Homo sapiens: one gene and its partner. The protein of the gene in region 2 purifies or fractionates together with the protein of the main gene of each other region. This does not show direct contact. Each region holds a gene or a part of one and is shown on either strand. Other genes may lie near its edges.

Evidence for each region.
Region 1: the proteins of SNX8 (region 2) and ATP6V1D fractionate together in Homo sapiens (co-fractionation; one large-scale study listed by BioGRID). This does not show direct contact.

What each region holds. Positions count from the first base shown.
Region 1 is NC_000014.9:67,342,763-67,346,575, reverse strand, and holds part of ATP6V1D (V-type proton ATPase subunit D), read left to right. Parts: intron 1-704; coding exon 705-808; intron 809-3,137; coding exon 3,138-3,204; intron 3,205-3,813. UniProt on the Homo sapiens protein: Subunit of the V1 complex of vacuolar(H+)-ATPase (V-ATPase), a multisubunit enzyme composed of a peripheral complex (V1) that hydrolyzes ATP and a membrane integral complex (V0) that translocates protons.
Region 2 is NC_000007.14:2,272,774-2,276,586, forward strand, and holds part of SNX8 (sorting nexin-8), read right to left. Parts: intron 2,457-3,813; coding exon 2,339-2,456; intron 1-2,338. UniProt on the Homo sapiens protein: May be involved in several stages of intracellular trafficking. May play a role in intracellular protein transport from early endosomes to the trans-Golgi network.

The DNA of each region.
Region 1 (3,813 bases), on a different chromosome or scaffold from region 2:
TGGGAGGCTGAGGCAGGTGGATCACCTTAGCCCAGGAGTTTGAGACCAGCCTGGGCAACATGGTGAAACCCCGTCTCCACCCAAAAAGTTACAAAAATTAGCTGGGCCTGGTGGCATGCGCCTGTGGTCCCAGCTACTCGGGAGGCCGAGGTGGGAGGATTGCTTGAGCCTGAGAAGTGGAGCTTACAGTGAGCTGAGATCGCACCACTGCACTCCAGCCTGGGTGGCAGAGTGAGACCCCATCTCAATAAATAAATAAACAAATAATATTCTTTCTTTTGGCACTTGTATTTCCTTGCTTCATGTGATATTTAATTAAATCATATAGAATATTAAGTACATTTCATACGAAGAAGTAGAGCATTCTAGAGAGAGTCACCTGTTCACAGAGTGTCATCGTACTCTGGGCATCAGGCAGTATGATTTTCAAAGGGAATAAGGGGCATCAAGCTAGTGAAGTGAAGGTTGGTTAAAAGCTTCCTTTGTAGTTATATTTAGAATAGTATTCTTGTGGGAAACTGTATTTAGTAGCATGCTCCTATAGTGTTTGGGGAGTGAGATAGGCACTTCATGTTTACATTCAATGAAGATTAGTGAATTCATCTTTCCATATTTGTTATTATTCTGAATTATCTCCTTTTGGGGAATTTTATAGGGAAGATATTTTACTCTAATTAAAAATGTTGTCTGACTGGTCCTTTCAGGTTATGAACTGACTGGTTTAGCCAGAGGTGGGGAACAGTTGGCTAAATTAAAGAGGAATTATGCCAAAGCAGTGGAACTACTGGTGGAACTAGCTTCTCTGCAGGTAAGTAGCAAAAGACCTGGAGAACTCCTGTAGTTTGATTTGTAACAGTCAAGTGGAGGAGAGTCAGGTCTTGAGTCAGCATATACTGTGCTTTGTACTTTTAACTGTTCCCATGATCCTATGTAAAGCAAACATAATATTTTGATTTCTGAAGTGATGGCTTTTGTACCATTGTCCCTACTTTTTAAAATTTATGTATTTTTTATTTTTTTGAGATGGAGTTTTACTCTTGTTGCCCAGGCTGGAGTGCAATGGCGCGACCTCGGCTCACTGCAACCTCTGCCTCCTGGGTTCAAGTGATTCTTCTGCCTCAGCCTCCCAAGTAGCTGATTACAGACATGTGCCACCATGCCTGGCTAACTTTTGTATTTTTTGTAGAGACAGGGTTTTGCCATGTTTGTCAGGCTGGTCTCGAACTCCTGACTTCAGGTGATCCACCCGCCTCGGCCTCCCAAAGTGCTAGGATTACAGGCATGAGCCACTGCACCTGGCCCCTACTTTTAATTTAAAAATTTATTTATTTTTCGAAATGGGGTCTCACTGTGTCACCCAGGCTGGAGTGCAGTGGCATAATCCCAGCTCACTGCAACCTTAACCTCCTGGGCTTAAGTGATCCGCCCACCTCAGCCTCCTGAGTAGCTGGGACTATAGGCATGCCCCATCACACCTAGCTAATTTTTGTATTTTTTGTAGAGGTGGGGTTTCACCATGTCGTCCAGGCTGGTCTCGAACTCCTGGGCTCAAGTAATCAGCCCGCCTCATCCTTCCAAAGTGCTGGGATTATAGGTATGAGCCACCACACCCGGCCCCTGCTTCTTCTTGTTAACAAAATGTATGTGCTATGGTACACTCTTGTTTTTTTTGTTTGTTTGTTTGTTTTTTTCTTTGAGACAGAATCTTGCTCTGTTGCCCAGGCTGGAGTGCAGTGTTGCGATCTTGGCTAACTGCAGCCTGGATCTCCTGGGCTCAAGCAGTCTCCCGCCTCAGCCTCCCAAGTAGCTTGGACTACAAGTTTGTGCCACCTCGCCTGGATAATATTTTTGAATTTTTTAGTTGAGATGAGGTCTTGCTACGTTGCCCAGGCTGGTCTCAAACTCCTGGCCTCAAGAAATCCTGCCATCTCAGCCTCCCAAAGTGCTGGAATTATAAGTGTGAGCCACCTCACCCAGCCCAGTTTCACTCTTTGCTAAGTAAGAATAGCAAGTTGATACTAGATTTAAATGTAAATGTAAATAAACATCGTTTGTGCATGGAAGACCATTTTTTCCCCTATGTGGCCAGTTAGTATATATCTAGGTTATTAATGCTTGATTCTTTCTTGTCATTTTTATGTTGTTATTTAGGTGAGACTATAGTAAACAAATTATAATAGTGTCAACTCAAGTAAAGCCTGTTGAAGCAGAAATGATTTGATAAAGGTTTATTGAAAGCCAAATGTGAGGATTGACCCGGGAAGACACCAACAAAGTTGGGTGTGTTCTAGAGTCTGCTACAAGTTGGAAGGCTTTTATGGGAAAGTTTAGGAGAAGGGAGGACTCCTCATACCCAAGTTGTCCTTTTCATTGGCGAGTACAATACAGAGGTCACAATCATTGGCTACAGATTACAAATACAAGCTAAAATGTTCTACATGCAAGTAAATCATGAAGTAAAACTTCATGAATCAGAAACAAATCAGTGTCATTTTCAGCGTCAGTAGGTTGCATATTAATCAGTATGTCAGCAGTCTGAGAAACTTAAGATTTCCTTACTCAGGGACAGGATGTAAACCATGAATCATAAGATCCCTCAATCTGCCCAGGCAGGTTAATTTGGAAACCTACCAAATGTGACATGTAGGTTATCAATAGCATGGAAATAGTGTTAGCCCTATGGAAATCTCACAAGAATTTTGTTTTTGTTTTGTTATGAAGAGACAGGGTCTTACTCTGTCACCCAAGCTGGAGTACAGTGGCACAGTAATAGCTCACTGCAGCCTCAAACGATCCTCCCATCACAGATTACCAAGCAGCTGGGACTACAGGTGCATGCTACTACACCCAGCTAATTTTTAAAATTTATTTCTTGTAGAGGCAAGGTCTCATTGTGTTGCCCAGGCTGGTCTTGAACTCCCAACTTCAAGTGATTCTCCCACCTCAGCCTCCCAAAGTATTGGGGTTATAGGCGTGAGCCATGCGCCCAGCCTAAGAATTTTGTTTTTTAAGCATGCCAAAAAGAAGTTGTCTTGGTTCTCAAATGTTTTCTACAAGTGCAGTCTTAGTGGAGTCAAGTGATCAGGGAATGATTAGGAAGACTTTGTGCTTACATTATTAATTTGTTCTTATTTTAGACTTCTTTTGTTACTTTGGATGAAGCTATTAAGATAACCAACAGGCGTGTAAATGCCATTGAACATGGTGAGTATTAGGTACTGTGAGGTGCTTTGTCACTTGTCCATACCCTCCACTTGTCGTGAAACTGCTAGAATTCAGGGACTGTACTGAAGACTGAAAGATGAATAAGATGCTTCCCTTGCCCACAGTGCAAAGAGAGAAGTGTGTCCATAGTAAAAAAAAAAAGTGTTATGAAGTGTTCTGATAGAAGTACTTGTATGATCTGGGGGAGTTACACACATAGGAAAGTGGTGACTTAAAAATTATGGAATGTTTTCTTCATTTCCAGTTATTCATGCAGTTATTTAAGGGTAGGAATATTTCTCAAGATCCTTAGTGTTTTCTGTAGTTCTTTCTAATGGTTGAGTGATGCAACTTTTTGAGTACATTAAATATTTAACTTTAAATCAGTATAAGCCATTCTCCTTGATTTCTAAAAAATTTCCCATTTGATGCACTTATTTTCCATCTCTTTTATTTCACTATTTAAAAAATATGACTGCTTAGTGTTGATGGTACTTTTTGCTCAATAAACTTAGTTTTTATTAAAGAAACACTCAATTTTAGGTAAGAAAGCAAAATTTGAAGTAAAGAAATTCCTTTGCTTGGGAATTTCTATATTAATGCTAGTGA
Region 2 (3,813 bases):
AAGTAAAAGCATATACTGATGCATTCAGGACATTTCAATCTGAACACAAACAAAAATGGTATTTAAATACTTTTTTTGAGACGGAGTTTCACTCTTGTCGCCCAGGCTGGAGTGCAGTGGTGTCATCTCGGCTCACTGCAACCTCTAACTCCCAGGTTCAAGCGATTCTCCTGCCTCAGCCTCCCAAGTAGCTGGGATTACAGGCACCCGCCACCACACCTGGCTAATGTTTATACTTTTATTAGAGAGGAGGTTTCACCATGTTGGTCATGCTGGTCTCGAACTCCTGACCTCAGGTGATCCGCCCACCTCAGCCTCCCAAAGTGCTGGGATTACAGGCATGAGCCACCAGCGCCCAGCCTTTAAATACTATTTTTAATGTATTAAGAAATACAGCCAGGAGTGTGGCTCACACCTGTAATCCCAGCCTCTTGGGAGGCTGAGGAGGGCAGATCACTTGAGGCCAAGGAGTTCTACATCAGCCTGGCCAGCGTAGCGAAACCCTGTCTCTGAAAAATACCATAAAAGAGGCCAGGCGCAGTGGCTCACACCTGTAATCCCAGCACTTTGGGAGGCTGAGGCAGGTGGATCATGAGGTCAGGAGATTGAGACCATCCTAACACGGTGAAACCCCATCTCCACTAAAAATACAAAAAAAAATAATTAGCCAGGCGTGGTGGCGGGCGCCTGTAGTCCCAGCTACTTGGGAGACTCAGGCAGGAGAATGGCGTGAACCCGGCAGGCGGAGCTTGCAGTGAGCCGAGACCGCACCACTGCACTCCAGCCTGGGTGACACGGCGAGTCTTCGTCTCAAAAACAAAAACAAAAACAAAAAACACCATAAAAGAGGCCAGGTGCGGTGGCTCACACCTGTAATCCCAGCACTTTGGGAGGCTGAGGTGCGCGGATCACGAGGTCAGGAGATTGAGACCATCCTGGCTAACACGGTGAAACCCCGTCTCTACTAAAAATACAAAAAAATTAGCCAGGCGTGGTGGCGGGCGCCTGTAGTCCCAGCTACGCGGGAGGCTGAGGCAGGAGAATGGCGTGAACCCGGGAGGCGGAGCTTGCCATGAGCCGAGATTGCACCACTGCACTCCAGCCTGGGCGACAGAGCGAGACTCCATGTAAAAAAAAAAAAAAAACACCATAAAAGAAAGAAAACAAACAATACAGGTAGGTGGCTGGGGCTCCCTCCTGGCTCAGCACTGGCAGGCCTCTTCCGATGAGGCTGCACTTCCTTAAATGCGCAAGCGGCCCAGCGCGCGTGTGCAGTTTCCAGGCGCTGAACGCCAGCCAGCGCTCATCAACTCGGATGCCCAGGCCTGAGCCAGCATCACACATCCCTGTCGCGTCCTCTGCTCTCTGCTGCCCTGAGCGCCCGTGTGCCCTTCAGCGTGAGCTGAATGATCTGCTCTGTGGCCTTCACATGCGGCGGGGTGAAAATCACATCATCAGACCCTGGGCTGCTTGCTCAGTGACCGATGAGAGGCAGAAGCATTTATGCATCATCGTACGATTTCAGATGCGGGGAACTGGCGACTGTGTTAGCTCCCATGCTGCGTCCCCGTCCAGGACACGGTGACTGTGGAAGGGCTGGGAACGGCAGAAAGCCATGATCAGCTCTAAGCACTCATTTCCCCAGCATGTTTTATTCAGAATTTGAGGAACGGGCTGAGGGAGAGACCACCAGTGAGATCAGAGCTGGCAGCCGCCATCCCAAGCTCTGCAGCCCAGGGGGACACAGGCCTGGGGAGCAGCTCTGAGGTCGTCTGCGATCTCCCACCTGGCCCGAGGCCATCTTCAGGCAGAGAGGTGAAGGTGAGGCAGCCGTGTGCTGCTTTTTCTCTCCTGCAAGATGCAGCTGACATTTCCTACTTGCACAACTCAGTTCTCTTCCATGAGGCCACCGAGCGCTCCCATGGTGCCCATGGCTCAGGCTGCCATGGCTTTGCAGATGCAGGCAGGGCAATGCCAGCCAGGTGAGCACACAGTGCTCCTGGCAGCCCTCTCGGGAGCTCTCGGGAGCCCTGGCCACTGCACTCTGGAGAGGAGAACTAGGGTTCTCTTTCACACCTGCACAGCAAGGGCTTCCCCACCTGTCAGTCATGCAGCTGAAGGCTCTGGTGGGCCAAGGCTGCCGGGTGCCAGTCTCCCTGCCTGCACCAAGGCTGGGCTCAAGCCACAGCTCTGTCCCAGATGCCAAAAGGCTGGAGTTTCCCCCGCAGCCCTGCACCTGCCCCGGTCTACAGTGGGGTCCATCCCTGAGCCAGGACCACAGGGTCCAGGAGATGGGCTCGCTCCCTCCGCCCCCGGTGGGCAGCACGCCTGGCTTTACCTCCCAGCATTCTCTTGGGTGGCAGGGCAGGCACCATACGGTAGGGGAACTTGTGCAGGAGCATCTCCTGGAAGACCACGAAGTCATTGTACCGTCTGTATACCGAGGACTTGAAGCGCTGCAAGAGAAGGGTCGGTGCTTAGATCCGACGTTGGAAACTATGCTGTCGCGTCACTTCCCCTCAACAGAGCCCGGGAAAACGACAGCACCAAGTGCATCTTCTCTCACCAGGCCTTTACTAAATGGAGAAACCCTGTGACGGCTTCGTATATGGAAATACAACTTTTAAACTTTGTATAGCTCTTAGGCCGGGTGCGGTGGCTCCCGCCTGTAATCTCAGCATTCTGGGAGGTTGAGGCGGGTGAATCACCTGAGGTCAGGAGTTAAAGAGACCAGCCTGGCCAACATGGCAAAATCCCATCTCTACTAAAAATACAAAAATTAGCTGGGCATGGTGGTGGGCGGCTGTAGTCCCAGCTACTTTGGAGCCTGAGGCAGGAGAATCCCTTGAACCCTGGAGACAGAGGTTGCAGTGATCCAAGATCGTGCCACTGCACTCTAGCCTGGACGACAAAGCGAGACCTTGTCTTAAAAAAATTAAAAAAGGCCGGGCGCGGTGGCTCACGCCTGCATTCCCAGCACTTTGGGAGGCCGAGACAGGCGGATCATGAGGTCAGGAGATCGAGACCATCCTGGCCAACACGGTGAAACCTCGTCTCTACTAAAAACACAAAAAATTAGCCGGGCGTGGTGGTGGGCACCTGTAGTCCCAGCTACTCAGGAAGCTGAGGCAGGAGAATGGCGTGAACCCGGGAGGCAGAGCTTGCGGTGAGCTGAGATCACGCCACTGCACTCCAGCCTGGGCGGCAGAGCGAGACTCCATTTCAAAAAAAAAAAAAAAACTAAACAAATGGTATGAAGCATAGTGGCTTCCCACCTGGTCAGTGACTGGCCCGTTACACACACATCAGGGTGACCAAACTGCCCCCTTGACAAATGTTCCCTATGTGGCAATGAATTTACTTAAGGGACGGGCAGCTTAGTAAGACTGGACAAAAGGCCAGCCGCTGGCTCCCTGGCAGGCAACGGCACGTCTCACACGCTCAGAGTTGCCTCACCCCCAGGCTGCCAGGCCCCAGAAGGAAGGGGTGGCTCGCTCTGCTCCCCCGTGGCATCCCACCAGCTGGTCCACATCCCCGACTGCGGCCCAGAGGGCCGGGAACCACGGCAAAGCCAGACAGCAAGGCGGCTCTGACACGGTCCTCCAAGGGAGTCCTCCCCTCTGACCCGCTTTGTCCTTTGGTAGCAGTACTGACAACCATTCGGACCGTGTGGCCACAGGCTCTGGAACACAGTGAAGCACAGCAGAGCAGACGGCAGGGAGGGGAGACCGGCTCGCTTGTCCTTAAGGCCAGGTGCAGTGGCTCATGCCTGTGAGCCTAGCACTTTGGCGGGCCAAAGTGAGAGGACTGCTT